5 linked regions of the Homo sapiens genome follow. The protein of the gene in region 4 purifies or fractionates together with the protein of the main gene of each other region. This does not show direct contact. Each region holds a gene or a part of one and is shown on either strand. Other genes may lie near its edges.

Region 1 (6,489 bases), on a different chromosome or scaffold from region 4:
TGGTAGAGACAGGTTTTCACCATGTTGGCCAGGATGGTCTCGATCTCTTGACCTCATGATCCGTTCACCTCAGCCTCCCAAAGTGCTGGGATTACAGGTGTGAGCCAGTGCGCCCAGACACAAGTTTTTGTTTGTTTGTTTTTAGGCTGAACTGTGTCTATGTGTGTGGTATGTTAAGAAACACAGAAGGGCTGGACGCGGTGGCTCAACGCCTGTAATCCCAGCACTCTGGGAGGCTGAAGTGGGCGGATCACAAGGTCAAGAGATGGAAACCATCCTGGCAAACACGGTAAAACCCCGTCTCTACTAAAAATATAAAAACTAGCCAGGCGTGGTGGCGTGCGCCTGTAGTCCCAGCTACTCGGGAGGCTGAGGCAGGAAAATCGCTTGAACCCGGGAGGCGGAGGTTGCAGTGAGCCGAGATCGCGCCACTGCGCTCCAGCCTGGTGAAAGAGCGAGACTCTGTCTCAAAAAAAAAAAAAAAAAAAAGAAAAAAGAAACACAGTAAAGGATATGTTTGGAAACAACTTCTGCCATAAAATGAATGAGTGGAGAAAGCTAACAAACACTTTTAAAATATATCTGGCCAGGTGTGGTGGCTTACGCCTGTAATCCCAGCAGGTCAAGGCAGGTGGATCACGAGGTCAGGAGTTCGAGACCAGCCTGACCAATATGGTGAAACCCCATCTCTACTAAAAACACAAAAATTAGCTGGGCATGGTGGCGCACAATCGCAGCTACGCAGGAGGCTGAGGCAGGAGAATCACTTGAACCCGGGAGGCGGAGGTTGCAGTGAGCCGAGACTGTGCCACTGCACTCCAGCCTGGGTGACAGAGCAAGACTCCGTCTCAAAAAAAAAAAAGAAAAAAGAAAAGAAAAGAAAAGAAATACACACTAAAACAAGATACCACTTCCACCTATCAGATTAGGAAACTGAGAAGACAGTTTTGGAAAGGGACAAGGAACCAGACACTCTCATACATTCTTTCCTTTTCTTTTCTTTTCTTTTTTTTTTTTTTGTTTTGTTTTGTTAAGATGGAGTCTTGCTCTATCATCCCAGGCTGAAATGCAGTGTTGCAACCTTGGCTCACTGCAACCTCCACTACCTGGGTTCAAGCAATTCTCCTCTCAGCTCCCCAAGTAGCAGGGATTACAGGTGTCCACCACCACACCCAGCTAATTTTTGTGGGTTTTTTTGAGAGACAGGATTTCACCATGTTGGCCAGGCTGGTCTCAAACTCCTAATCTAAAGTGACCCTCCTGCCTCCCAAAGTGCTGGGATTACAAGCATGAGCCACTTCACCTGACCTTATACATTCTTTCTTTATTATTATTATTATTTTTTGAGACAGTGTCTCCCTCTGTCGCCCAGCCTGGAGTGCAGTGGCATGATCTTGGCTCACTGCAACCTCCAGCTCCAGAGTTTAAGCAATTCTCCTGCCTCAGCCTCCCAAGTAGCTGGGATTACATGCACATGCCACCATGCCCAGCTAATTTTTGTGTTTTCAGTAGAGATGGGGTTTCACCATGTTGTCCAGGCTGGTCTCGAACTCCTGACCTCAAGTGATCCACCCACCTCGGCCTCCCAAAGTGCTGGGATTACAGGCATGAGCCACCATACCCGGCCACCTCATACATTCTTGATAGGAATGCAAACAGGTTCAACCAACTGCTAGACTGCCTTCTAAATACCTAACAAAATATAAAAGGTACAGTCTTTCAACAGACATTTCTTCCTCAGATACAGTCCTACAAGGACTTAGAAGCAAGGATGTCCACTGAACCATTATTTATAATAGCCACATTGGAAATATCAATAAGTAACTAGTGTATGTAAACAATGGAATGTTTTGCAGCCTTAAAAAAAGAATAGGAAAGCTGTTTAGGGGGCTGATAATGATAATTAACATTTTTGAGCACTTACTAAGTGTTTACATGAATTATTTGACATGGAATAATCTACAAAATATAACATTAAACCAAAGGAGGGGAAAAAAACAGCAGCAGCAAGGAGCTAAACAGTGAGTAGTGTGCTCCCACTTTGTTAAAAAAAAATCCTAACTATATATGTGTGTATATACACACAGAAAATTTCTGATATATAAACATTGCCTCTAAGGAAGGACAACTGAGGATTAAGGGTATAAGAGAGACTGATGTTTCACTGAATATTGTTTCCTAATGTTTGTCTCTATCATCTGCTAATTAATAAAAACACAAGCTTCAGAACCATATGTATAATATAATCCCTTTATAGTCAAAGGAATTTTATGTTTACATATGCATATATTTCAAGCCTAGAAAAGTCTGAGATACTAGCTACCAACCATTAACACTTAACTATAAAGAATGAGATGAGACAGGATAGAATAAGGAAGAGAAAGAGGAGTCATTGGTAATAACTAATGAGAAATGTATCAGTAGAAAGTATAATATTTTTTGTAATAAAAACAATAAAGGTACATTTTAAAATCAGCAGATACTAGTTACAGATTTAAACTTACGTCAAGAAGGAGCTAACAAAGAACATCAGTTTCAGAAACAGTAAAACTTGATGACTATGTTTTGTAGATGAGTAACCAAAGAACAGAAACCCACACAGTTGATGCTAGAAGAGGCCTTAAAGATCCCAGTTCTCTTGTTTTGCTGACCAGAAATTAAGGGTGAGCATGGCTAAGTCACTTGCCTGGGTTAACAGCCATGCTAGGTGACAGCTCTTTCAACCCTAGCTCATGGCTTTTCCACCAAACATTCTGCAGACTTCTCCACCTTGAGATGCTGACTTAACTTTGCCACTTCTTAGAATCCTGATAAAAACAATACTGGGAGTACGAATTCAGAATATTCCCAGAGACTCTGTAAATCTGGAAAACAATCCAATTAGGAACATGCTGCCTCTTTGTTTTATATTTTAATCTACGGAGAGAACAGAGCATAAGGAGATGGGGAGGAGGGAGATGGAATGAGAATAAATTGATTAATGAACCATCTGCATAGCACCCTTGCTATGTAAGGGTTGTTATTAGTAAGAGGTCAAAGGATCATCCAGGAAACAATCTATACAGCATGTATGTGGACAGGTGCGTAGCAGTTGGGTAAAGTAGGGTAGTGGGGAAACAGTGTGCCTGAGTGATGCTAAGGACAAGTAGAAAGTAGGACACACAGGCCAAGCGCGGTGGCTCAAGCCTGTAATCCCAGCACTTTGGAAGGCTGAGGCAGGCGGATCATGAGGTCAGGAGTTCGAGACCAGCCTGGACAACACGGTGAAACCCCATCTGTACTAAAAAAATACAAAAATTAGCTGGGTGTGGTGGCACACGCCTGTAGTCCCAGCTACTCAGGAGGCTGAGGCAGGAGAATCGCTGGAACCCGGGAGGCAGAGGTTGCAGTGAGCCAAGATCGTGCCACTGCACTCCAGCCTGGGCAACAAAGTGAGACTCCATCTCAAAAAAAAAAAAAAGTAGTACAGCACACAGTCAGTGGCCAGTGCTGGGGAACCTCCTCTTCCACCAACCTGGTGAATAGCCAAGGAAGAAGATAAGAGAACAGACAGATAAAGAAAAGGAAGAGAAGAGCTAACTATCATAGTACTTTGTCCTTGGCTATGCTGATTGTACATGTAATTATAGCCAATTCATGGATATGTAAGGTTGTAAATAAAACTGGATCCCCTGTAGTCCCAGCTACTCGGGAGGCTAAGGCAGGAGAATGGCGTGAACCCGGGAGGTGGAGCTTGCAGTGAGCCAAGATCGTGCCACTGCACTCGAGCCTGGGTGACACAGCGAGACTCCATCTCAAAAAATAAATAAATAAAAATAAAAATAAAACTGGATCCTGATTTCATATTACTGATACCTACTACCAGCATGCATAAGTCCAGCTTCTCTGCTGTAGCCTGGTGAGCATTTGAACCACAGATGGAGCGGGGTAAATATGCAACTGGATCCACAGGTCACCCAATCCCACTCCAGCTCCTGGATTTTCTCTTATATTTGGTAGAAGGCTTAAGAATTTAGGCTGGGCACAGTCGCTCACACCTGTAATCCCAGCACTTTGGGATGTTGAGGTGGGTGAATCACCTGAGGTCAGGAGTTTGAGACCAGCCTGGCCAACATGGCAAAACCCCATCTCTACCAAAAACACAAAAATTAGCCAGGTGTAGTGGTGCACACCTGTAATCCCAGGTACTTGGGAGGCTGGGGTAGGAGAATCGCTTGAACCTGTGAGGCGGTGGTTGCAGTGAGCTGAGATCGCACCATTGTGCTCCAGACTGGGCAACAAGAGTGAAACTCCGTCTCAAAAAAAAATAGAATTTAGGTAAGCCTTATTTTGTGAAAGAGCTGCTCTGGCGAAGGAAGAAGTTTGCAGATAATTAATTCTCCATGCCAAAAAAGAAGAACTGCAAGGGAACAGTTTAAGGTTCTAGAGGTCAAAAGACTTTTCTGGCTTTCTTTTTTTAAGTCAACAAACTCTAATAAATATTTATGATGTACCAGGCCAAGTCCTTACCTTCCTCAAAGCACTGATCACATTTTGCAAGTACTATTTTAATACCATCATTGTTTGTGAGTTTTGACATAACCATCATGCATGATTAAAAACTCCACAAAGAAAGGATGACCTGTAAATTCTCAATGGTAGCTGAAATCTTTACAATAATGATAAAATAATCAATAGCAGCTAATCCTCAAGGAGGACTTAGTATATGTGAAGCACCCTGTATGCATATAATCTCATCCTTACACAACAATCCTTTACGCCAGGTGGACTTCTAGCATCCCATTCCACAAATGAGGCACAAAGAGGTTAAGTAACTTCCCCAGGGGTGTTGGTAACCACCTTTTATTCAACACCCACCATTATGGGGGGCTAGTCCTGTGAAGAAAAAAGATTTTCTTCAACTTGTACAATAACCTGGCAAAGTATGATTATTCCTACATTACAGATAATGAAACTAAGGTCCAGAAAAGCTGAACTGCTGTTTGGCCTTGGTAAGTGGCAGAGCTGGTCTTCAATCTCAGTTCTGTCTGCTTTCAGAGCCGATGTTGTTCCCACGATACCAATGGCACCTAGACATTCAGGTTTCGTGGACCAGTAATATGTCCAAAAAAACTAGGGGGGGGTGTAACTTATATAGAATTACCAATTATACATTTTGCCAGGTATGGATGTTCAAGAAAAAAAAAAAGAAACAAAACTATCTACTTTTACTATCATGGTGAAAAAGCAAGGAGATTTTAACACCAAAAACTAGAAAGAACCATGTAACAGTTCTGTATAAATCAGAAAACAGGCTTGATATGGTGGCTCACACCAGTAATCCAAACATTTTGCAGGCCAAGGTGGAGGATCGCTTGAGACTAGAAGTTCGAGACCAGCCTGGGCAACATGGCGAGACCCCATCTCTACAAAAAATTAGCTGGGCATGGTGGCATACACCTGGACCCCTAGCTACTTGGGAGGCTGAGGCAGGAGGATCTCTTGAGGCCAGGAATTTGAGGCTGCACTGAGCTAGGATTTTGCCACTGCCCCCCATCCTAGGCAACACAGTGAGATCCTGTCTTTAAAAAGTCAGAAAAAAAGTTCTTATAAATCAAAAAACTTCTGCTACACAAACACTATCTTCTTCTTATTTTTCTCATGTTACCAAGTATCAGTGAAAACCAATAGACAGGGACAGTGTTTGAAAACCACTTCACCTCCACTGTAGCTACCAGGGGTTACCTGTAAAATCTGTTCAGTCAGCCTCTCCACAACCACATCCATTGGGGTTTGTTATGTAGTAATCACCACATCTGTCTATGCACTTATCTATCTACTTACCTATCTTTGTTTTTCCAAAAAATAGAGTAGAGAAAATTTATTTATAGATTTTTCTTTTTTTTTTTTTTTTGAGACGGAGTCTCGCTCTTTTGCCCAGACTGGAGTGCAGTGGCGCGATCTCGGCTCACTGCAAGCTCCGCATCCCGGGTTCACGCCATTCTCCTGCCTCAGCCTCCCGAGTAGCTGGGACTACAGGCGCCCGCCACCACGCCCGGCTAATTTTTTTTGTATTTTTAGTAGAGACGGGGTTTCACCATGTTAGCCAGGATGGTCTCGATCTCCTGACCTCGTGATCCGCACGCCTCGGCCTCCCAAAGTGCCTGGGATGAGAAAATTTATTTATAGATTTTTAAAACTTATTTCCAAAGGCCTTCTCCCAAGACACCAAAGTACTTTTTGACATCAAACCCCTCTGTAAAGAGATTTTCTTTATTCTCTTTAAAATAAGTAAAGGTGCTGCCTCCTGTGAAATGCCAACAAAAGGATAAGTTTCATGTGAAGCCAACTCTAAGAAGATGGTACTAAGTATCTTTAGTACTATCTGGAATTTCATATGCAGCCTCCCACAGCATAACCCTCTTCTCAGCTGGTAAGACAATTATAGTTCCTATCTCAAAGAAACACTGTGAACAGATGTTAAGGTCTTTCAGAAATTTAAACTCTCTG
Region 2 (6,489 bases), on a different chromosome or scaffold from region 4:
ATAATTTTTGTGTTTCACAGAGTCTTGATTTTCATTCCAGGAAGCCAGAGTCAGTAATTTATGGCTAGATCTTTAATTAAAACATTTGCCTTACTTAGTATTACAAAATCATCATTTGGTTTTGCAATCAAGATAAGACTGTTTTGTCAACTTAATGCTAAGCACTTAATTTTTATTTAACAATAACTTCTAGAAAGATAATCACTCCAGTCTCAATTATTTTTATGTTTGTGTGTTACCTTTTAATAGTTGCCATTTATATTATTTTAGTAAGGTTGTAGTGGTAGTTTATATATTTGCTTGGAGTTGATAACTAGAGTAAGCAGCTTCATAAAGTACTTCTGAAGGCAGGCTTTACTATTAAAACTGTTTACTATTATGAAGCTGTTTACATTATTTCTGGCATATCTCTTGGTAAATGGTTTAGGGGCACTATTTTCTATTGATGTAAAAATTGAGGCCAGGCATGGTGGATCACGCCTGTAATCCCAGCACTTTGGGAGGCTGAGGCAGGTGGATCACTGGAGGTCAGGAGTTTGAGACCAGCCTGGCCAACATGGCAAAACCTCATCTCTACTAAAAATACAAAAATTAGCCAGGCGTGGTGGCACATGCCTGTGGTCCCAGCTACTCAGGAGTATATTTGTAGATACATATAAAATTCTCTTGACATTACTTGATCACTTATATTAGATCCAAGTGTATAACTTAACTTAGTATTCAGGTTTTTATCTGGCCTTATCCTCTATTACTCTTTGAACCCTACAGTCTGTACTAATTATTTCTAAAATTGTGTTACTCATCTACAATATCTCATATCTTTATAGTCACTAAATGAATGTCTGCTGGATAAATGAGGGAAAATTACTTTCTTTTTGCATAGAAAAAACTATTAGTATGGTTTGTTTTTGGGTGGCGATTGTTATTTTGATTGTACTTAACGTTTGTTTTCAGAATTGTTCACCATGAATATATCTTGTGTCAGCAGTAAAATAATAGATTTCTTTTAGTCACACCTGTAGAATTGAATGTTAATTGTTTCAGTAGCATCTGAGAAAAGGATACGTTCACATATGTCACAACTAAAGAATAATCAGACATCGATGCCTATTTTAAATTGATGCCAAAGTGAGATCAGCTTCTTGTATCTGTCAGTAATGCTTTCAGCTTTAGAGGAAAAACCAACAGCTAATAGTGGCTTAAATAAATAAGAGGATGTTTTTCTCACATAACAAAAAGCCTGGATATAGGCCCTTCACGGTTCCTCACTCTGTTATACTTTGTCGTCCTTAGCTGTTGCTTTTCATCATCCTGTTTGTCGTATTTGCAAGATGGATGCTACAGCTCCAGGCATTCATTCCAGGAAGGAGAAAGGGCAGTTTTAGCTGAGATGGTCCTTTTTATCAGGATAACAACACCCTTCTCAGAGACCTCGAACAGACCGCCACTTCATATTATTCAGAGCTTGGTCATGTGACTACTAGTTGCAGGGAGACTAGGCTAACAGGTATTTGGCTTTCCGGCCTATTTATTGGGAGGTAGCAAGGGAAAGGGGAATTGGGAATGGCTTTAGGAGTGTCTGGTTCATTGTTACTTTTATTTCAGACTTTGAAGTGGGGATGTGGAGGGTAGTAGGTCTTTTTCAGCTAAGACTTAGGAAGTGTTTTCTAATGTTAAGGGCTTTTTCTGGGGTCATGATTGTTTTGTGTTTTAGGGCCCAACTTCCTTCCTTTCCTTTAGGAGAAACTAGAGAGCAGGCAGATACTTGCAAATACCTAGAACCCCTTGCCTCTTATTTTTGGATACCTACTCTTTCTCCTAGATTATTAAAATTGTTCCTGCAAGCATTTAAACTACCTCAGGTCTTACAAGTCTTAAAAAAAAAATAACTTTCTTAGACATACAGCAGATTTTCTGCACCACTTGGTTACCTCCCATTCTTTTTCAATCCATTCCAATCTGACCTTTGTCATTGAGTACTTTTTAGTTTTGTCTTGGCCTCACAACTGTATTTGACATAATCACTCCCTCCTTGAAAATTATTATTTTTTGACTTGCATGGACACCACTGATTTTTTTTTTTTGTTCAATACCCCTGGCTCCTTCTCAGACTATATTAGTGGTTCTCTGAGAGTGGTCCATGGAGTCCCCAGTATCATTTCTGGGGTCCAGAAGATCAAAGCTGTTTTCAGAATAAGATGATGTCTTTTTAACCGTTTTGATATTTGCATTTGATCCTTGCTCCTTGTACTTCAACTTAACAACTTCCATTGGTTTCTTGAATGCTACACTGTTCTTTCTGCCTTAGGATCTTTAAGTATCCTCCCAGTGCCTAGACTACTTTCCTACACGAAACCTTTTTCACCCTTCATGACTAATACTGGGGAGAGTGATGATGAGTTAGTTGCTGCGTATTTTTCAGTTCTTAAATATTCTTTCTCCAAGGGTGTTTCCGTGATATTCTGCTTTCCCGTAGACTTAGGTTCTCCTCCTATATTCTCTCATTGCACTTTCATAGCACTCAATTGCATGAGTCAGAATTCTGGTCACTTAATTTTTTAATGTCTGCCCCACTATTATTTATGCTCCACTAAAGCAGAGAGGGAATCTCTTGGTTATCATTCTAGCATGTCATCTCACATTCCATAAGTATTTGTTAAATGAAAGAATGGTTGAAAAGCTGTTGCAGGACAGGCATGGTGGTTCACACCTGTAATCCGAGCACTTGGGGAGGCTGAGGCAGGAGGATCTCTTGAGCCCAGAAGTTCAAGACAAGCCTGGGCAACATAGCATGGTGGCACATGCCTCTAGTCCCAGCTGCTCAGGAGGCTAAGGTGGGAGGATTTCTTGAGCCCAGGAGGTTGAGGCTGCAGTAAGCAGTGATTGTGCCACTGCACTCCAGCCTGGGTGACAGAACCGAGACCCTGTCTCAAAAATAAATAAATAGGTATTTAAAAAAATAAAAATCACTCAGCAATATTTGGCTGCCATAGTAGTGCTAATTATAATTACTGGGAATTATAATTGTAATTACTGGGCCCTGGGAATGCAGCAAAGACTAAAGACCATTCTTGTTTTCCTGGAGTTTATTCTAATGGATTTGTGCATGGTGATCCCTTCTACTTCAAAGATTCAATGATACCAAATTATGCATACTAGGTATACTATTTTGAGGATTAAATATATTATATGATGGCATCTGTAAAGGTTAGAAATGTTCATTTACCTTTAATTTGTATAGTTGAAACACTTTTTTGTTTTTCAGTCCAAGCCTTATGCATTTGATCGGGTGTTCCAGTCAAGCACATCTCAAGAGCAAGTGTATAATGACTGTGCAAAGAAGATTGTTAAAGGTAAATATATTCAACCTGCTGAGTTGTCTCAGCAATAAGTAAATAAGTTTGTGATCTTTTCTACTTACTCAGCTTCCTTTTTTCATTTTAATGCCCCTTTCTTCTAAGTTAATTGCAGAAGAAAGTTGTTTAAATAATAAAAAGGTCAAACACAATTAGTAAATATTCTATTGCTCAAATTCCATGATCTAATTATATACAGTACCTAATTAAGGTTATTATGAGAACTATGTTACACACTTATTCTTAAGAGATGCATTTCTGTTAGATATTCCCAGGAGAGTTTCCAAGGTGGCAGTTCTAGAAAGAGAACAGTATGAGAATGAAAACAAAAGGGCTAGACACATTTCTAAAAAGTAGTGGAAAATGGCAGTCTATCATTCTTCCATTCCATTGTTATTCCTTCCCCAAAGACTTACCTATCCCTTGAGGAATTTAACAAGGGTTGCCAAGGGTGAGAAAAGTATGTACATTCCAGTTAATACTATAACTTATACAAGAATATTTATAACTTTATATATTCTAAAACCATTGAATTTTAAAGCTGAGAGAGTGCTCATTGTTTATCTGGAGTTACTTCCAGTTACTGTAGAAATCTGTTTAATCAAAGGAATGGCTGTTACTTTGTGATATGATTTATTTCATTTTTTGACAGCTGTAGTTGTTACAAAGTGCTTCTTAGATTGAGGCAAAATCTGTGTTGTGGCATTCACCACATTAAAAGAATTGGGATTCAGTATAAAAATAGGTGGATTAGGATAGCATAGGAGCACAGATGCTCATCCTAGTAACAGGAGATAAAGTGGAGTTATAGAAGGTTTATAGATGAGGTGAGGGAGGGAAAATGTGTATGTACTCATTATATCAATTTCATATTGTCTAATACAGGGAGCAAAGTCATCATGGAGATGAGGAAGGGGGAAGAGGTTCTAGGAAAAGGCATGAAATGGATGGATTCAGGCAGTGTGAGAGTATTGCCAGGCAGTATTAAGGGCCCACTCAAGGTTAGCTGCTGAAAGAGTTGAATTTTTGCCCATTTGGAGTTTTGCTAGGTGAGTACAAAAGAGGGAAGTGGGGGACAAGAGAATTGAGGATATAGTCAAAGGAGTGATTATAATGGTGGACCATGGGATCTAAGGTGGTTAAGTTACAGGAAGAAGGATATGAGGGAGGCTGAAGGGCAGTGAAAAAAGGTGGTAACATTAGTGGGTTGTAGATCTCAGTGGGGTCAAAGATTTGTTGGAATCAGGGTACTGGACGGAGTAATAGAAGGTGAATACAGACAGTCCCTGACTTAGAACAACTTAAAATTGTTCGACTTTACGATGGTGCAAAAGCAATACACATTCAATAGAAATATTCAATAGAAATATTTCTAGTACCTGTACAACCATTCTGTTTTTCACTTTCAGTATAGTATTCAATAAATCATATGAAATATTTAACACTTTATTATAAAATAGGCTTTGTGTTAGATGGTTTTGCTGAACTGTAGATCAGTGTACGTGTTCTGAGCACATTTAAAGTAGGCTAGGCTAAGCCATGGTGTTTGGTAGGTTAGATGTGTTTGATGCATTTTCAGCTTAGGGTATTTTCAACTTACAGAACATTTATCAGGAAGTAACCCCATCGTAAGTTGATTAGTATCTCTACTTGAAATTGAGATTATGGAAGCAATGCAGTTAGTAATGAAAAGGTAAAGGTGTTGTCATGGAGTTGACTTCCGAGGTAGTAAAGAAAGGATAAGGCCAGACATGGTGGGTCACACCTGTAATTCCAGCACTTTGGGAGGCTGAGGTGGGAGGATTGCTTGAGGCCAGGAGTTTGAGACCAGCCTGGGCAACAGCGAGACCCCATCTCTGTTTTTAAAATAAAAATGAAGAAAGAATAAGATCGCAGAAAATTTGGTCAAGGAGCTGAGAGGCCAGGTTATTTTAGTGGGATTATCTGCTACAGACTTTGAAACCACCAGTACTGTTTTATTACAACAGTAATGGTATTGGTGAGAGAGAGTGAACTGGGTACTGACATCTTCATAAAATGAAGGGGAATTAACACTTGTAATTGTGTAAATGACTGCAACAAAGAGGAACAGGGTCATCATGTTGTAAGCATCATGTGGTTTTCCAGAGGGATCGATCATAGAACACAATTTTACTACATTCTTTGATTGAGACATACTTCTGTCTCATCAGTACAGTTTAAGATTACATTAGCTTTCTAACCAATAGAAAGTTACCGATTCATGAATTCATGGGCAATTTGAATATACAGGTCTTTTTTGTATCTCTTGCCGCCAGCTTTAAGCCCCATTCCATACTTGCACTTTGGAGAGCAAACCTTTAAAGTGCAGATTCCATTTTGTTCATTTTAGCTCTTAATCATATTTTGAGTTTTATACTGGGGATCTAGTAAGTTGGCTGTCAGCACATTTGATAAGTCTATTAAAGTGTCAAAGGTTTTGAAGTTTGAAAAATATGATTCTAAACCATTTATAAAGTGCTTAATGGGTCATGGTCCCTAGGTTAATCTTCTAAAATGAATAAGATTGTTGGCAGTTATTTCAATCACACTGTTTGGGTATTCAGCCAACTTCAGAGCCTCTTACCTATACGATTGGCTAGTCCTTAGTTTGTCAACATACTCACAAGAAAATGATGAAAAACTTGAATCCTTTTATCAAGTGATGGTGCATGACTCTAGTATTTGCCCAAAGTACCAGTTGAATAACCATATCCAAACAGGAAATGAGGTTAGTTCAACCATAGTCTTTACTTAATAAAATTTTGGTATACTTATTTCCATAATCTATCCCTTTTCCCATTTTGAAAATGTAAATAACATTAGTGTCTTCTATTACCTTTGTTCTCTTTGGCTTTTAAAAGTAACCTACAGTAGCTGTGAGATTTTTATCCCTGGAACGTAATCCTCCTTAGTAACTAGAAACTTGGGCTCATTTGAAGCCATTCTTTTGCTATCGTACTATCCACATAAACCTTAAAGTCCCTTTCAACAATGTTTATTCTGTTGTTCTGTTTTGAGGATCATATTTGTGGAAGATGGTAGTAAATAGAAGTACCTCTGTTTTAATATCATCAGTTAATATTTTCTGGTCTTTCCTAAGCAATGCAGGTTC
Region 3 (6,489 bases), on a different chromosome or scaffold from region 4:
ACCTCTGCTTCCCAGGTTCAAGTGATTCTCCTGCCTCAGCCTCCCGAGTAGCTGAGATTACAGGCATGCACCACCATGCCCGGCTAATTTTTTTGTATTTTTAGTAGAGACGGGCTTTCTCCATGTTGGTCAGGCTAGTCTCGAACTCCCGACCTCAAGTGATCCACCTGCTTCGGCCTCCCAAAGTGTTGGGATTACAGGCTTGAGCCACCGCGCCCGGCAGTACAAGCTTTTTCTTTTTTGTTTTCATTTACCCTCCTCCCCTCAAAAAAAATGTCTAGAAGGTTGAAGTTCTTAGAAAGTTACCCAACTCATTTGGATCTGTTCTTAAAGGTGTTTTGGAATCACAGTATATAGTATTTTAGTTTTCAAAGTTCAAATCAACATGCCTAGGATCTTAGGGTTTCCCCATTGCCTAATAATTGAGTTCTAATTTAGCATGTATATATCTAACATATAGGACATAGGTATTTAGGTATCAGGGTGCTTAGCTTTGTGGAGAAGATAAAAATAGTATTACAGGTATAGGCCTCAGTTTAGTTGGGGAACTAAATATGAAACATATCAATATATCAAATAACATAGAATTATACTAACTTGTGTGATATACAAACAATAAGTTTTGCTAAGGTTCATAGAAATTTAGAGCTGTTTAGGATCTTGACCTCTAATCCAGTGGATCTCAAGCCTTGGAATTATCTAGGGAGCTTTCTTGTAAGACTTTAACAGGCCAAGGTCTTGGCCTTTTTATACCTGGGCAATTATGACTCAGTGTATTGTATGGGACTGGTACATATGCTAGGGTATTTTTTTTTTTTTTTTTTTTTAATGAACTGATACTTAGCATTAAGATTCAAGTGGGATCTGGCAGTTAATATTTTCCAGAGTGAAATGCAGTCAGAAAAGTGAGGTAGGAAAAAAAGTGTCAATGTTAAGAGACTTTTACACTGCTGGGAATGGAGGTACTTAAAAGTGCTTGCTGCCTCTCCATAAGGATTCAAGGTCAGTACTCTTTTTCCAGAAAACCCTACCCTTATTAAGCTAATTACAGGTATTTATGTCTAAATTGAGAATTAGAGATGGATAGAGCTGATTTTTAGAAAAACAAACTTTTCGAAGCTCCTGAGTTATGTGTGTGTTTTCAGACTTCAGTGCCTAGCAGCAAGTCATCTGGTGACCTTGTTGATCTGTTTGATGGCACCAGCCAGTCAACAGGTAAGCTTCTACATTGGCCTTTTCTTTTGGTTTGAGAGTCATTTTTTAAAATGCCAAATAAAAGATAGATTGAAAAATAAGATTACTTATTTGCATTGGGTTCATTTTTTATATGAAATTAGTGAGTCTTGAGCATTATTTGGAATCATTGTGTTATTTTTGCTTATCTTTTTATATGTACACCCATTTCTCTATCCCTATTTTATACCTTTTTCTGACCCACCCTCAGACTAGCAAAACTTTGTTTGTGGTCAGTACTTATTGGTGGTTAATAATAGTATCCTCAAATCATTATCATACTTAGATTTTAATGACTCCTCATACCTGATGTACTGTGTCTTCCCTAATTAATAATAAATAGTATTTCAAGGCATCATGTACTTTCTGAAATTTTTCATCATAGATTTTGGAATCTATAGTTTCCATTTTTAATTTTTAAGATTAACTTGGAGAAACAAAAAATTGCATTTAAACTGTTGCCTTTACTTTCTTTATAAGCAAAAGGTACTGCTCTGCGCATTTTACTGTCTTTCCCTAAATTTTAATTGCAGCTGTCACCTTGGGCATGCCTAGAGATCATTTAACTTTTTATTCTTTTAATTGAACAAATATTTGTTGAACCAGACACTGATCTGGGTGCTTGTAAAAAACAGAGTTGTTGTCCTCATGCGAAGGTCAAGTGGAGAAAATAATCATTAATCAGAGTCACAAATAGTTATCTAGTGATAAACAATGGCAAGTGCTTCAGTCAGAGGAATGACATTCTCTGAAAGTATGTAACTACCAAACATATTTAAAGAGGGCGGCTGGGCGTGGTGGCTGACCCCTGTAATCCCAGCACTTTGGGAGGCCGAGGGAGGTGGATCACCTGAGATCAGGAGTTCGAGACCAGCCTGGCCAACATGGTGATACCCTGTCTCTACTGAAAATACAAAAATTAGCCGGGTATGGTGGCAGGTACCTGTAATCCCAGCTACTCGGGAGGCTGAGGCAGGAGAATCACTTGAACCCGGGAGGCGGAGGTTGCAGTGAACGGAGATTGCGCCATTGCACTCCAGCCTGGGCAACAACAGTGAAAAACTCCATCTCGGAAAAAAAAAAAAAAAAGAGAGGGCTACAGCAAAAGAACTGTTTACCTTGAATTTCTCATAGATGAGATTGATGATTTCTTCAGTTTGATTTCCAGTATGTGCTAGATTTTGAGTAATTTCTGATCAATTGTTTTCAAGAAAATTGATATTTTTAGGGTTGTATTTGATGATTATGGAGTTTTAATAAACTATTGTGTGACGTGTCAAAATAGTTTAACAAATACATCTTCTGTTTAAAGACAGTCTTTCCAAGCCTAAGTTCATTTCACATTAAAATGTAGACAGTAAGATGGGGGTATGACTAATGTGCAAAGTAAATTTATTATTCCCAGTTGTGTGTAATGATTTTTCAAAGCCGAATTGTGGCTGTGCACAGTGGCTCACACCTGTAATCCCAGCACTTTGGGAGGCCGAGGCAGGCGGATCACCTGAGGTCAGGAGTTCAAGACCAGCATGGCCAACATGGTGAAACCCTGTCTCTACTAAAACTACAAAAATTAGTTTGGCGTGGTGATGGGCACCTTTAATCCCCGCTACTCAGGAGACTAAGGCAGGAGAATCGCTTGAACCCAGGAGGTGGAGTTTGCAATGAGCTGAGATCATGCCACTACACTCCAGCTGGAGTGACAGAGCAAGACTCTTGTCTCAAAAAAAAAAAAACTTTAACTTAACCTTTAAGTGTAAGTCTATGCTGGAAATTACTTTTCACTGATAGTTTAGTATAATTAATGTAATATAAAGCCCCCTATTATTTCCTCCTCCTTACCTACTATGTTAAAATTCTTGGATTAGGCATGAACTTTATTCAAGCAATTCTCTTGCCTAAGCTTCTCGAGTAGCTGGGATTACAGTCACCTGCCACCATGCCTGGCTAATTTTTGTATATTTAGTAGAGACGGAGTTTCACTGTGTTGGCCAGGCTGGTCTCGAACTCCTGACCTCAGGTGATCTGCCTGCCTCAGCCTCCCGAAGTGCTGGGATTACAGGTGTGAGCCACTGCACCCAGCCCAGACATCTGGTTTGACCTACTTTCTTTCTCTATTTTTTTTTTTGAGACAGAGTTTCGCCCTTGTTGCCCAGGCTGGAGTGCAGTACACAGTCTTGACTCACTGCAACCTCTGCCTCCCGGGTTCAAGCGATTCTCCTGCCTCAGTCTCCTGAGTAGCTGGAATTTCAGGCATGCGCCACCACGCCCGGCTGATTTTTGTATTTTTAGTAGAGACAGGGTTTCTCCATGTTGGCCAGCTTGGTCTCAAACTCCTGACCTCAGGTGATCCACCTGTTTTGGCCTCCCAAAGTGCTGGGATTACAGGCGTGAGCCACCATGCCTGGCCAGCCTACTTTCTGAAATTCTTCAATTCCCTTTCCCGTTTTTCTGTAACTGCAAACTGTTCCTAAAATTATTCATTAAACTTGATTGGACTGTAATGCCCAAGGTTACGGACAGCTACATTAGTTGTGTAACAATTTATGTGATATATTTTTATATGTTTAAGATTTGAACTGTAGAATTAACTGGTAGTTAGCATGTAGTCATATAATACAGATATAGTGTCACAGAATATCAACTATTTTGGACTTCCTGGCATGAAATATTTAAAGGGCCCCTTTCATGCATCTGTGAAAAGTTTTAATGGAGCAATCAGAGAAGAATTAACTAGGAAGGTCAGATGGGTGGATGTAACTTTTCCTCTGTGACATCAAGATTGCTTTGAACAGAGAGATTTATTAAATACCAACATGCTTCCTTTACTTGGCAAGGAACCTTTGAGTGGTTTGTCTTCTCCAGTGCAAACAGTAGTTTGACTAATTAAATAGAAGTAGCAATTGATATTAATATAGTAACTGAGAAAGTTTGAATGAAATCTAGGAGGTTTCTTGCCTTAAATTTTATTTTATCTTAATAAAAAGCAACTAATAGAGATTGATATTAGAAGAATTTTTTAAAATTAAAGTTATCTCCTATTTGAAACCGTATGTTTAACCAGTTTGTGCAGCTCCCTCTTCAATCAGTACATAAATTTAGTTACTCCCAATCTCTATTTAAATATTTTAATAATATATTTTAAATTGAATTCAGCAGTGAAAGGAAATTGGGCATTAAATCTTTAGCACTTACACGAGAAGGTATAAGAATCTACCATATTAACATTGCTATTTGGTATGTCATTTGGGTGTCATTTACCAGATGTGCCCATATTTATAATAGTACCATCATGCAAGTAATGTGGGCACAAACTGTAAAGCTAAGCAGATATGGCATCTGTACCACTCACCAGCTAAATATATCCTCTGAGAAAATGTTCAGATTTTTGTGTGTGTGTGATTACATGTTCTTAGCATTCTCAAAAGTATATATGGTAAAATCATTGTAGAATATCTTACCAAGTTTAAAAATATATATGTAAAACCTAACTATCAGGATTTACTTGAGACTATCTCATATCTTAATAAAATGTCCCCTTGTGGTGATATTCTTTTAAAACCTGTACTCACATGGTGTTTCAGTTGCTTTTACATAAAGTACATTTCTAAGTAAACATTTTAAGAAATGAAAAATAATTTAAAGTACAGTCATGGACTGCATAGTATGTGACCATGGTCCCATATACAATACTATATTTCTACCGTACCTTTCTTATGTTTAGATATACAAACACTTTCTATTGTGTTACAGTTGCCTACAGTATCCAGTATAGTGACATGATGTACAGATTTGAAGTCAAGGAGTAATAGGCTATACCTTATAGCCTAGGTATGTAGTAGGCTAACTAGGTTTGTGTAAGTACCCTCTATGATGTTTGCACAATGACAAAATTGCCTAATGCCCCAATGCATTCTGTCATTGAGAAATGTGTGACTATATTTAGAAAATAAGCCAATTAGAAATAGAATGCCAAAAACTGTCCCATTTCTTTTTTTAGTTTATCTCACCTCTTTAAAAAGAAGTCCAACTTGTCTCTTTTGTCCCTTTGTAATTAAGAAATTTAGGTCTTGATTAACATACTGTTAAACTAGATATTTCTAGTACAATAAATAAGGTTGAGAAAATTCAGCATAATCAATACAGATAGAACTTAAATGACTTGCAATATATTTTGAATGTTTTTAAGTTAAAAAGAAACATTTAAAAGGATTAAGGTATATCAAATCCGAAATGTGTATTACATTTACATTTGAACCTGCTGCTTTGTACCCAGTAATCGCTAGTTAGTTGAAGACATTTACATGAACATGTAAATACTCACCTTGTTCCATTCTTAGTACACTAACTTATCATTTGGGTAGGGGTTGTCTCCAGTTTTAAACTAAGTTTACTGAAAATAAAATTTTTTCAGTATATTCTCTTTTTCACTGATTATTAAAAGTAATGCACATTCAATTTGGTGGAAAACAAGTGATTTACCATAATTTAGACACATAAAGTATTAATCTGGTGAATATCTTTTTAAAATACATTTTCTACATATTCCATTAATGTAGTTATTTAAGCATTTATTATGTGGCAGATCTTTTTCAGGCTTTTAGATATGACTTTTCATTTGTTTGGGTTTTTCTGGGTTTTAGTCATTTATTTATATATTTTGATAAACTGCTTTTCACCTAAGATCTCATGACCATTTTCTTATGATAGTTGGTATTCTTTTATAGTACTTTTCATTGCTTTATAATCTTACATTGGGTGGCTATATTATAATTTAGCCAGTTAATCCCTTGTTTTCTAGACATTAGTTTTTTTATTTTTCCAAAATTTTGTAGTACAATAGCACCTTTTAAAGCTTTTTCAGTTTGGTAAAGAGAAAATAATATTTCATTTTATTTTGCATTGATGATTGAGTTTGAACACTTCATATTTTTATAGGCCAGTTGTTACTATCTATTCATGTTCTTTATTTATTAGGAGTATTCATCCTTATTGATATTCTAAAACTTGTGTATTATAGATAATAATTCTTTGTCATGTATTTACATTTTTTTTGCACTTTGCCATTGCTTTAATGTTGTGTAAATTCTTCATGCAAAAGTTTGTCTTAATGTAATCTAGATTAAATTTTTTTGTCAAAGAAAATTTCCATTTGTCGTTTAAGTACTGTCTAGTTTACCTGTATTTTCTTGTTCACAATATTGCTTTGGGAAATACATGTTCCCAGCTGGTGACTAAATAACCTCCCTGCTGCCCTGG
Region 4 (6,489 bases):
TCGGCTCACTGCAACCTCCGCCTCCCGGGTTCAAGTGATTCTCCTGCCTCAGCCTCCCGAGTAGCTGGGACTACAGGCACATGCCACCACACCCGGCTAATTTTTTGTATTTTTAGTAGAGACGGGGTTTCACCATGTTAGCCAGGATGGTCTCGATCTCCTGACCTCGTGATCCACCCGCCTCAGCCTCCCAAAGTGCTGGGATTACAGGCGTGAGCCACTGCACCCGGCTGACCTTGACATTTTTAAAGAATATAGGCTAGTCGTCTTGAGGACTGCCTTCAGTTTGGATAGGCCTGACGTTTCCTCTGATTGCATTCAGGTTGTGTTCTTTGGGCAGGAATCTCGTGGCAGAGGTGTTGGGTCCTTCTCAGTACCTCTTATCAGGAGGCTATGATGTCAGTTTGTTTAATTACTGGTGATATTAACTTTGATTACTGGATTAAGGTGGTGTTCCCAGGTTTCTCCGGTATAAAACTGCTGCTCTTTCTTATCTAGGAAGTAACAAACTTTTCTGAATGTTGGCTGAGCTGTGCTGATGAAGCCAAGACCCCTCCCATGCAGTGAGTGGGCCGTGTTCACTCACTGTGCATGGAGTCAAGTGGTTTTGGAGAACATGGAACTAGATTCCAAGATTGGAGGAAAAAAGTCTTTTGGGGGTTCCACTTTGCAGTCAACTCACATTCAGAGGCATGACAACCCTCTCCAGAGAGTTATTCTTGCCACTGTGTTTACAGAGGTGTTTGTTCGTATTTTCTGCCAGTCATGGAACCTAAAAGGTTATATCATACTGCCTTATGTTCCTAGAAGGTCTAGTTTACCATCCTAAACACACCTTGTGAATCCCCTTTGTTATATTTTTATTGGACCTTAAAAAATTAAAGTGGAAGAGCTAAAAAAGTGAGACAATGAACAAATGCCTTGAGTGCCAGCCCTGGTACTCTTGTCTGTTTGCATTTCTTTGGGAAAGGTTGTTTAAACTCTTAGGACTTTGGTTTTCTTCTGTAAAATATGGTTAATAGCAATTTCCTACGTACCTCACTGGATTACTGTGGCAATCAAATAGACCCTTGTTAAATAGATGAGAAGGTACTTCAGAATAAACCTCCATACAAGCACAGTGAGTTCCCCTAATTAATTCATATTTCTTAAATCAGCCAAAATACCTATTTCCAGGAAATTGAAAAATAGCTTGCCAGACTTTCTTTGGCTTTCAGCAATGTGAGCAGGGCTGGCCAGAGAGCCGTGCAGTCTGACATACCAGCCTTGTGGTTTAGTTTCTTCCGGATACCTGTGCTTAGCACTTTTGCAGGGCAGCTGACAGGGTACAAAGTCCATGTAAGCAAGTGGCAAAGCAGGATGAGCAGGAAACTTGACAGATTGTAGATAACATTGGGAACTTCTTTTTTTTAATTCTGTATTTTGTTCACTCACTGTAAAAAAAAAAAAAATCTATGACTTGCCCACACTTTTCTAATTTGAAGGTCATGTTTGTGTGTGCATACAAGTGTGTGTGTTTTCTAACTTACTCTGTTTATTGGGCAGGGGCTGGGGTCGGGGACTGTAAACAGACTTCTTAATGAGCTTTATCCCAAAGAATCCACCCTTACTTCTCAGGTAGAAGTTATTTTTAAATGTGTGCTCATGGGTAATTGGTCCAGTTTTATTTAGAATGGAACCTCGCAGTCTGTGGCGTGAACTGAACCTACATGTGACCATTCTCTTAAAACAAGCAAGGCTGTTCAGGGCTATGCCAACTTGAGGCTGTCAGAACCTCCCCCACCTAGGCCACCCTGGCCTTTTCTCCCTAGGATTAGGATCTTGTCCTGCATTTCCATTTACTTAGATGGGTCTGACATAGCCAACAGGCTCCTGCCACACTGACTGAGTGTGTGAGCCATTTAAGCAGACACAGAGGTTGTGCTGGAACTCAGATGCTGGCTATGGCTGCTGAGGCTGCAGCCAGTTCAGGCCTCCCACCCACTCCCCCCAGTCCAGCCCTGGAGACCCTTGTGGTCGGAGTCATGTCTGCAGGAAGGCTTCTTGTCTGCCTACCCATTCATGGGCAGAAGTGCCAGCACACTTCAGGGACCCCCGAAGCAGAGCCCAACTCTTTCTATACTGCTTAGAGAAGCCCAGAGTGTGGGCTCGCAGGCCAGTTCCAGGGAGAGAACAAGAACAGGCAGGGTTGTGCACACCCAGCAGCTTTGCTCATTCTCACCAATCAGAGAAATCGTACCTCATTCCACGGGGAGGAGGGTGAGGGCAAGCAAGAAGATCAGGTGAGATTTGCCAGGCCTTCCAATGCCAGAAAGTCCTCCTCAACAGGTCAAGGTAGGAATGCTTATGGGATGAGAAAGTGTTTCCATCTGTTATCATCTACCACGAGATAGTCTTTCCTACAGCCTCTATCGCCAAGTTTCAAATCCACTCCCTGCCCTTGTACTGTTGTTGGATCAAAGGACACATATCATTCACGTGACAATCCAGTGGAGAGATAATGTGCTTTGATCTTGGCAAGGCACTAGACCAAGTCTTTTGAGACACCCTCGTGGTGGTTGGGTGGCGGGTATACAGCTCTACTGTGGGCGCCACTCACCTTAGATAACAGCGTGAAAGGAAGACGTGGCCAAGCAAAAGACCACCAGCTGTATCTTTATACATATTAACTGAGACTAAATGCAGGCTCAGCTAATGTGTACAGTTAGTACACATTGTGTAACTCATTGGAAAACCATGCTCAATGGAGCACTGTCAGTGTGAGCAAGCAGGACATGGGCTCCCCTGTTATTACAGTTCATCTTCCTGGTTTTGGTTCATTCTTGTCTGTGAGGATTATTTGGATTTTTAGTTTATCATCTAATTGATCAACACCAATACCTAACAGCTATTGAGTGCCTACTCTATGCCAGTTCTATAAAGAACATCTTGGGGTCTTGGTGACCCCAAACTCAGACTTAGCTGCGCTGGCAACACAGGAAGTAGAGCAGAGCTGTAAGAAGGCTCTGTGGCTTAGTTCACTGTGGGAAGCCATTTCACCTCTCTAAGCCTAGTTTTCTCATCTGTAAAGAGGCCATGATAATAGTACCTGTGTCATACCATTTACACACATATGTACACAAATATGTGTCTGTAGACATTTAGCAGCCTAGTGGCTGGTGTGTAGACAGCACTCAGTAAACATGGACACAACTGCAGAGAGTGTGAATGGAGGTCTGAGCTCCAAATGGCCAGGGTAAGGACCTGGTCTGACTGTGTCAGAACACATGAGGACTCAACGTGCTGAATCGTAGAGGCACTCACACATTACCTCTCAAGCCAAGGCTCTCAGGAGCCTCAAGGTCACCATGGGGATTGGACACTACCCCTCCAAGCAGAACAGCTCCACTCTTACCTACTGGGTACAGACAGAGTGTGTGTGCATCTGTCTCTGTCTCTGTCTGTCTCTGTCTCTCTCTCTCTCTCTCTCTCTCTCTCTCTCTCCCCCCGCCTTCTCTCTCCCTCTCTCCCTCTCTTTCTCTCTCCCTCTCTCCCTCTCTTTCTCTCTCCCTCTCTCCCTCCCCGCCCTACCCCATGTCTCAGGGATTCTCAGTTGAGGGAGATCTTGTCCCTAAGGGGACGTTTAGCAATGTCTGAAGGCATTTTTGGTTGTCATAACCTGCGTGGGGAGCGGACTGCTGCTGGCATCTAGTGAATGGAGGCCAGGGATGCTGCTAAACATCCCACAGTGCCCAGGACAACCCCACAACAAAGCACTATCCAGCCCCAAATGTCAGTGATGCCAGGTTGAGGAAGCCTGCTCTGCGGGCGTATATGTATGGCGGGGCAGGGGGATTCTCTGCATGGCTTTTATTTGGTAAAAGTCTAGGAAAAAATAGAAGATCAGCGTTATATAGTGTACCTGGAAAAAACCACCTGATTGCTAAGCACTCTGAAAAACCACATCCCTTAGGAGAACCCGAGTGTGGGGCCTGAGCCCAAGGCCAGAGGGGAGAATAGTCTGCAGAGAGTCGAAGCACCATCCACAAAGACAAGGTGTCTTGGGAGTTCTGAGTTGCTCCAGGCCTAATGGCATGAGGACACAGGGAAGCCACTTGGCCAATATGAAAGTCCACATGCCACTTGAGGATTCTTTTCTCCTTCAAGACCAAGTTTAATATTGATCTGATCATATTTCCCCTTATTAGCAGGATCTGATTTGGTAACTCTAAGCCTCTGGTGAAAAATCGTCTTTGAATATCAGGGTGATTTGCCATTTTTATTGCTGTTTTTATAGATCAAAAAAGTCAGATATTAGCAATTCATGGTTCAACCTGCTGAGGATTGAGGGTGATGACTTGTAATTTCTGTATACATTACTTTATATCCTTCCTAGAGGAACTCTGTACAAATGCCCACATCCCTGTTCAAACCTCTAGGGAAACTGGGCATCTCAAGCTAAGCTGTTACCCCTGTCCTGAACAAGCAGCACTCACCAGGAGCCCAGCCTAGGCTGGCGTACCTGTAACGGACCCTTTCCCAGCAGACATAAGACGAGCTCCTGTGTTTTAACCAAGTGGCTTGTCCTCACCTTTTGCATCTGCCCAGTTGGGAGAAGAGAGATTCTTTTAAACCTGAGACCCTCCAAAAAACACCCCCCATCCCCATCTCTTGGCTGTGTTCCTTGGCATTTAAAAAGAAATGGGGAACCTTGAAGACTTGCTAAGTAAAATAAGCCAGACATAAAAGGACAAATACTGTGTCATTCCATTTATACGAGTCACCTGGAAGAGGCACATTCACAGAGACAGGAAGTAGAAGGGTGATTGCCAGGGGCTGAGGGGAGGGGAATGGAGAGTTGAACGCCACTGAACTGTACACTTAAAAATGGTTAAAATGGTAAATTTGGTGTTATATATGTTTTGTCACAATTTTTTTAAAAGGAGCCAGCATGTTCATTGCCATATGCTGAAACCAGATTCAACCCTGATGTTCACCTAAAAAGAGGGAGTAGGGAAGTGCCTAATACTCCATCTTTACATTGTCATGAAACCTAAGTGAGATTAGGACATGGCATCATCAGCTGGGCTTCTTAAAATGTTTCCCTTTCCACCAGGGCCGTCTTAGAGAGACCGTATATTCCTGTTGGGCTGAGAGCACTTTAGTGACTTTTGAGTGTGTGCTAAGCCCTATTTTCCTTCCTCTGGAAGGATGAAATTGTTCAGCTTGTTGGAACTAGGTGTCTTAGGAACAGAGAGCTCTGTGTTCAGGCCCAGTAATCATCCTCTGGCATATTTTTTGTTTTCCAGGACAGCTACTAAAGCTTATCCACAGTCTCCAAAGACAACGAAACCTCCCTACCCAGGGTCTCCTGTGAAGTACCGCTTACCTGCCCTTTCTGGCCAAGACATGCCCAAGAGGAAAGCGGAGAAAGAGAAGAGCAACAAGGAAAGGGAAGGTACCTTGGCTCAGCAGGCTGCTGGCCCGCAAGGAGAGGAAGCCCTAGAGAAGCATGTAGTGGACAAGCATGCCAGCGAGAAGCATGCTGCTGCCGCAGGAGGGAAAGCCGAAAACAGCGCAGGTAGATGCTGCCACCGTGCCTTGGCTTTCCCAAGACGGTTCTCCTCAGACCCAATCCACGTGCCATTCTCTCATGTTTTGGGGAGGGAAAGGGATTTTTCTCTGGGGACAAGTGCATCCCCTCGTGCAGCTTTCTTGGGTTTGCACGTTGCTCCTGAGTTCTTTCCTTCAGTCTTCTGAGGGTCCCCTGGAGGAAATCTAGAGGCTGACTCCACTCATGGCTGTGGAAGCTCACGGGGATGCTGAGTAAAACAGGCCTGCATCTGCACCTCACGCAAAAGAAGATCTTCCTTTAGACTTTCAGGCTTCTATGATGCAGTGAGTTCACCCAGATGGTGGCTGCTGTGGCACTTGCTAGTGACCTTGTCTTTCCTCCTCATGTTTCTATTGTCTTCCACTGTAAAATGCGTCCAGGGTTCCAGCCAGCCCATGACAGCTTCTCTTGCTTGGTGGTCGATTGTGCTAGTCTGGACGGCATTTCCCATCACCACACTGGGTTGGATTTTTTTTCACTTCCAACTGGCAGCTGCTGTGTGAGTGGAATCATTATATTCGTTTCCCTTGATCTTTTCCTCTTGATGCCTCTCCTCTGGTGCAGCCTTGGGGAAGCCCACAGCAGGCACCACTGATGCAGGAGAGGCTGCGAAGATCTTGGCTGAAAAGAGAAGACAGGCCCGGCTGCAGAAGGAACAGGAGGAGCAAGAACGACTGGAGAAGGAAGAACAAGATAGGTATGCTAGTGCTCAGAATTTCGGTGTGATCTCATGTAACTGTTGTGTTGGAAAGAGCAGCTTGCCTTTCTTTTTACAGCGTTGGTATTGATAAAACTTGAACAGAAGTATGGGAACCTAGAATGTCTGAACTACATGGAAGGTGTTCAGGAGACTGAGTCTTATATTAGATGTAATTATTAATAACAATGGAACTTTG
Region 5 (5,874 bases), about 130 Mb from region 4:
CTATTCTGGCTTTACCCTCAAATAACTCACTAACTAGACTTTAATTTACATCTTTATATCTATCACAGGTATGATCAAGTTTCTCTATACTGAGAGCTCCCATAGTCATACAGTAGAAAAACACGAGCTTTGGTTTCTACTGGCTTGTATTTCACTAAGAAAATTCAGATGATCCTACAACCTGAACTCTGTCTGAAGAATGGAACAGTATAAAGAAAACTGCATATAATAATTTGTGGAAGGACTGGAATCCTAGGAGAGTATAAAGATCAATGTAATTTAAAAAATAGTGTTCTAAGAGCTATAAAATATTTTAAGTGCCAATGCTGAATACAGCACTGCTAATTCCAGAGGTACAAATGAAAGTTAACAGTGACAAATGGAACTAAAACAACTACAAATATTGATCTACTTCAAGCACAAATGCTAAAAACATCCCCAAATGGTTGTAATTTCAAAGTATGTTTAAGTAGTGGGTATGTGCATGTGTTTTAAATGTCTCGTTACCAAGGATTCAGTACTTTGATTTGTATCTTTTTTTTTTTTTTTCCCAGACAGTCTCGCTCTGTCGCCCAGGCTGGAGTGCAGTGGCGCGATCTTGGCTCACTGCAAGCTCCGCCTCCCAGGTTCACGCCATCCTCCTGCCTCAGCCTCCTGAGTAGCTGGGACTATAGGTGCCCGCCACCATGCCCGGCTAATTTTTTGTATTTTTAGTAGAGATGGGGTTTCACCATGTTAGCCAGGATGGTCTCGATCTCCTGACCTTGTGATCCACCCGCCTTGGCCTCCCAAAGTGCTGGGATTACAGGCGTGCGCCACCGTGCCTGGCCCTTTTTTTTTTTTTTTGAGATGGTGTTTTGCTCTTGTTGCTCAGGCTGGAGTGCAATGGCAAGATCTTGGCTCACTGCAACCTCTGCCACCTGGGTTCAAGCGATTCTCCTGCCTCAGCCTCCCGAGTAGCTGAGATTACAGGTGCCCGCCAACACGTCTGGCTAATTTTTTGTATTTTTAGTAGAAATGGGGTTTCACCATGTTAGCCAGGCTGGTCTCGAACTCCTGACCTCAGGTGATCTGACCACCTTGGCCTCCCAAAGCGCTGGGACTACAGGCGTGAGCACCGCGCCTGGCCAGATTTGTATCTATTTTCATACTTAATAGAGAAAACATCACCTTTTAAATTCAGTATTCCATTTCATTTAGAAATATAAATGTGCATCCTTTTAACCAATGCAGTTAGACTGCCAAGTTCATCAAACATATCAGTTTAAGTGGAAAATTACAAAACGGGTACTTAAATATCTTATAGCTTTGTAAAAGACAGGTACATACAGTAATTTACCAATCTATCTATCCCTTGGACATGCTGGTCCTTAAGAACCCACCAATAGTTAACACTTACTTTGAGCTGCTATGAATTCCAAGAAATATTCCATCATAAACTTTGTCTTAAAAAGTATCTCTCACTAATCTTGGGTGATGGTCCCAAATGAATCCATAGTCAGGAAGGAACCCTAACTACTTAATAATTAAAAGTTACAGAAAAAGTAGACGACAACATAGATTCAGAGAATCAGACACTAAGGTTTGACTATCATTTGGACATATGCTAGCTATGTGACTGTGGGCAAAGGACTGAAGCTACAGTGCACTCACCTATAAAGTGGAATAATAAAACTACCTCAGTGGGTTGCTGTAAGATTAAATGAGATAAAACATACACAAAGCACTTAGCAAAGGTGCCTGGATGTGCTCAGGAGATAATTTTAAAATTATTTAACAATTGGTTTAGCACTGGTGACAGCCAATTGAGAAGAGATCCTCGGACTAGGTCCTGGCTGTAAATAAGCAGATGACTGACCAAGCATGGAGACTAGCTGAATATCATCAGCTCTGTCTATCATGATTATTAGTTGTAAGACAGACACCTTCTTTTCCTTATTTTCTATTCAAAGAGAATACCCTATCCCTGTTAATTTGGGGGAGCAAAGACACATAAGGTTTACTGAGGTCTCTAAGTACATCCCAGGATGTTCCTTCTCTGGGGGATTGCAGGTCTACCAATGTGGTATTAAAATCATAGTGTGGCTGGGCACAGTGCTCACGCCTGTAATCCCAGCACACTGGGAGGCCAAGGTGGGCAGATCACCTGAGGTTGGGAGTTCAAGACCAGCCTGACCAACATGGTGAAACCCCGTCTCTACTAAAAATACAAAAATTAGCTGGGCATGGTAGTGGATGCCTGTAATTCCAGCTACTCAGGAGGCTGAGGCAGGAGAATCACTTGAACCCGGGAGGCAGAGGTTGCTCTGAGCCGAGATTGCGCCATTGCACTCCAGCCTGGGCAACAAAAGCGAAACTCCCGTCTCAAAAAAATAAAAATAAATAATAAATAATAAAATCATAGTGTGGCTGTCAAGGTCTTCACAAATACTCAGACTGCATATTCTCTAGAGAAATCCTCTTATTTGTATACTTGTCACAAAGAACTAAGATTGACTACAATTGTAATGTTGAAGGTAAAATATTTCACATAAACTGGATTTGTAATCTTTGAACATGTTTTTAATAAAGTAAAATAAACTCATAAATCTCAAACTACCATATTCAAACAATTAAGATGAAAAGAGGCAGACAGGTTTTACCTGAAGGGATCCATCTGTTGTTCTTCCTTTAGCCTCTCTTGGATTACGTGGACGATTATCTGTTCGGGAGTGATCGTCGTTTCCTATGAGAATATTTTCAAAAGGTTCAACAGTTACTGATTCTGAAATGCTTACTGGAAGTTCTTTATTCCCACACCCTCTATTTAAACCAACCACAGAATCTGAAATGTAATCAATACCCCAGTGATTCCAGTTACACAATGGCTAATAATCTAGCCTGCTGCTAAGTAACAGAAAATATTTCACAGTTATTATAATTCTGCATCTACAGGTCAATGTGAGTTAATGAAGGGATGCTGTTTAGACCCACCAAGATGCTGAATTAGTTATCAGCATTTATTCATATATCTGTATGAACCATAAGGAAGGCTGCCTAATATTCTTTCTTTCTACACAAGTGGAAGGCTGATCCTTTCCTATGGTATCAGCACAAAACGGGAGAGATGGGATCTTGGTAACAGTTCATTGCATCAATAGGATTTCTCATGGAACTTCAAGACAGCTGTTACAATTCACTTTGATTTCTTAATGAAGATCTCCATACCTTTGAAGCCTCCTCCACGTCCTCTTCCTCCTTGTCCTCTTCCTCCCCCTCCACGCCGCCGTCCGTCTCCTCTGCGCAGGAAGCTCTCCCTCTCTTCCTCTGTTGGAGCTAATGACCAATCACTGAGTTCGTCTCTGTGGTCAGATTCTGTTTCAGAAGCATTTGATGCTTCAGAATTAGTTCCTATCGAGAGTTAAAAGTTATATACCATTGTCTGACTTTAAAAAAAAAAAAAAGAGGGTTAACAGAAGCTTCCAGAGACGTTTCAGGGGTAATCCAAAACTCTTCCCAATTTATAAGCCCACAAAGAGTATTATCACTTTCCATTTCATAAAACAAAATTTTAAACTCAAAATGAAGGGCTTTGCAATATTTGAGGTTAATTTTGGTTATAAACATGTTTCATTCTCATTTTTAAAAAGGTATGTTATTAGCCACCTAAGTTCAAACCTTGATGTGCCATATCATTAAATAGCTGTGTTCCTTTAAACATCTATACTCTCTGGAGGAAAAGATTATCCACGACAGTTAAGTGTGATACCCTGATAAACAAAACCTCTAAAAAGAGAGCTCCTTTTAGCAAGATTTGGCCCAGGACAGAGGGGAATGTATATATTTTGGTCATTTCTGAGAGGGTGGCAAAGGAGGCCACCATGGCAACTGCTTCAGGGAAGGGTCTCTTGTGGGTCATGGATTGGATCTAGCTGAAGGCAGATACATGCTTGCCTGATGTTTGGTCCACAACCTGCCCTCCCACTCCCATTACAATAATTGATCATTAATAAAGAATTACTATAATAAATTCATTATGCCTGAAGGGGTTAACGACTTAGAGGACAGGAGCGGAGAAAAAGAGCTCCACGGTGAGGCAGAAATTCATGAGTAAAAAGAACAGACTGTTGGGAGAGGGGTTAGGGGTTAGGTTCAAGGTTGGCCTTAGGAGTAGGTAACTCTCCCCAACTCCAGAATATCAGCTCTACTACCTCTCTCTTCCTCTGTTGGAGCTAATGACCAATTATAGCTTCACCATTATAGCTTCATTCCTGTGGATCTTGAAGGCTTTTCCATCTTAAAGAGTTCCTTTTTGAAATGCAAATATGCGTGAAATGGATTATACCTTATACCATCATTAGCAAGTTACAAAGGAGATACACTGTTGAGCAAGAAAGACAGTAGGCACTGGCAGGTGGGGATCAGGTTCACTGAAAGGTACTGGGAGAGAAGAAAGAAGCACGGACAGAAAAGCTGGGAAGGCAAAGAGAAACTTCGCCTACTTCTTGACTGTGCCTAGGGCTGACTTTGGCCATGTCACTCAAAATCACCTTATGAGCCACAAGAGGCAGACCCCTGATTTACACAGTCCATCCAGCAAGTATGACCAGCACATACCTGACAAAATAAAAATGAGCCACAGTACACAAATGAAAAAAGTTTTGACTATACAGTTATAAAATCAGGAGAGGCCTTAAGAAAATCATCAACACACAAGGGCTTTGCAGATTTACCCCCAATCAGAGCATGAACAGAACTTGCACCGGCCCTGTGAACTCTACGTGTTTATCATCAGGTTTTTACTCTATGTCTCCTGTAACACAATTTAACCCACTGTGAATTGGAAACCATGTAGCGGCAAATTGTTATAATGGGGTTCTAATGAATATTAGAGATTAGCAGCTATAAGTCTAGGAACAGATAAAGTTACTGAGTAAAATGCTTAGTTTGTACCTGAAGTATATCCAGGACCGCGTCTGCCGTGCCCCCTATTTCTGTAAGGTCTACTACCTCGACCCATTCCTTGACCATCATCAGTCACATAGCTTTTTTCCTTATCTGTACGATTTGGTGGTGGTCTAGAACTAGCTCCAATCTGTCGCAACTGCTCATCAATTTGTAATCTCTCCAAACGCAACTGGTCTACTTCCTATTTAAAATATACAAGATAACAGTAAAAATAATTTGACATTTTACTTAATAAAACCTTTCTCCTTTTCATCAGATAAAAATATACTGGAATATTTCAATTTCAGTTCTAAATTTACAGTAAACACTGTTACACAGAATTATCAGGAAATTGAATGATCTCCTTAAAAAGAAAATTACTACAGATAACAGATTATTGATGTCAAGAATTAGAGATATAACAAAAACACTCAGCAGTAAAATTATACTGAATAAAATTTAAAGTTGTCTAATTTGGCACTATTATCCAATTATTCTACTGCTAAGGCACAGATATGCTATTTTGGGGACTTCTTCATGATAGGATATTAAATAAAACATGCTAAAATGTATGAATATAGATAAATGACATTCAAGGTATAACCAGCTAACCTTAAAAATCACACATTGTAAATAATCTTGATTAAAATAGATTTGCCAGTTAATATCTTAATTTACAAAGCATTGAGTTTGGGCCATCTTTTGTTTTAAAAGAACATATACTATGGTTAAGGAACAATGATTTTTTCATCAACTGAAAATGCTGACTATTCCTCATGAGGGGAAAACAAAACTATTTAATAGCTGACCAGACAGCTAGGTCTTACATCATGCCTTGAAAACTTCCTAAAGACTACAACTCTGCTACAACAAGTACGAGAAACAGTATACATTTAGTTGATAGAAATATACACCTGGGGTCCAATGACAGACCCTTACAAAAAGCAC

Evidence for each region.
Region 1: the proteins of MAP7D2 (region 4) and STX8 purify together in Homo sapiens (affinity purification with mass spectrometry; 2 studies listed by BioGRID and IntAct, with this or other methods). This does not show direct contact.
Region 2: the proteins of MAP7D2 (region 4) and KIF5B purify together in Homo sapiens (affinity purification with mass spectrometry; 2 studies listed by BioGRID and IntAct, with this or other methods). This does not show direct contact.
Region 3: the proteins of MAP7D2 (region 4) and CLINT1 purify together in Homo sapiens (affinity purification with mass spectrometry; 2 studies listed by BioGRID and IntAct, with this or other methods). This does not show direct contact.
Region 5: the proteins of MAP7D2 (region 4) and FMR1 purify together in Homo sapiens (pull-down; one large-scale study listed by IntAct). This does not show direct contact.

What each region holds. Positions count from the first base shown.
Region 1 is NC_000017.11:9,546,778-9,553,266, forward strand, and holds part of STX8 (syntaxin-8), read right to left. Parts: intron 1-6,489. UniProt on the Homo sapiens protein: Vesicle trafficking protein that functions in the early secretory pathway, possibly by mediating retrograde transport from cis-Golgi membranes to the ER.
Region 2 is NC_000010.11:32,045,328-32,051,816, reverse strand, and holds part of KIF5B (kinesin-1 heavy chain), read left to right. Parts: intron 1-1,293; exon of another isoform or gene 1,294-1,507; intron 1,508-3,265; coding exon 3,266-3,353; intron 3,354-6,489. UniProt on the Homo sapiens protein: Microtubule-dependent motor required for normal distribution of mitochondria and lysosomes. Can induce formation of neurite-like membrane protrusions in non-neuronal cells in a ZFYVE27-dependent manner.
Region 3 is NC_000005.10:157,798,376-157,804,864, reverse strand, and holds part of CLINT1 (clathrin interactor 1), read left to right. Parts: intron 1-1,145; coding exon 1,146-1,215; intron 1,216-6,489. UniProt on the Homo sapiens protein: Binds to membranes enriched in phosphatidylinositol 4,5-bisphosphate (PtdIns(4,5)P2). May have a role in transport via clathrin-coated vesicles from the trans-Golgi network to endosomes. Stimulates clathrin assembly.
Region 4 is NC_000023.11:20,024,752-20,031,240, reverse strand, and holds part of MAP7D2 (MAP7 domain-containing protein 2), read left to right. Parts: intron 1-5,288; coding exon 5,289-5,560; intron 5,561-6,157; coding exon 6,158-6,290; intron 6,291-6,489. UniProt on the Homo sapiens protein: Microtubule-stabilizing protein that plays a role in the control of cell motility and neurite outgrowth via direct binding to the microtubule. Acts as a critical cofactor for kinesin transport.
Region 5 is NC_000023.11:147,942,385-147,948,258, reverse strand, and holds part of FMR1 (fragile X messenger ribonucleoprotein 1), read right to left. Parts: intron 5,129-5,874; coding exon 4,933-5,128; intron 3,391-4,932; coding exon 3,208-3,390; intron 2,726-3,207; coding exon 2,643-2,725; intron 1-2,642.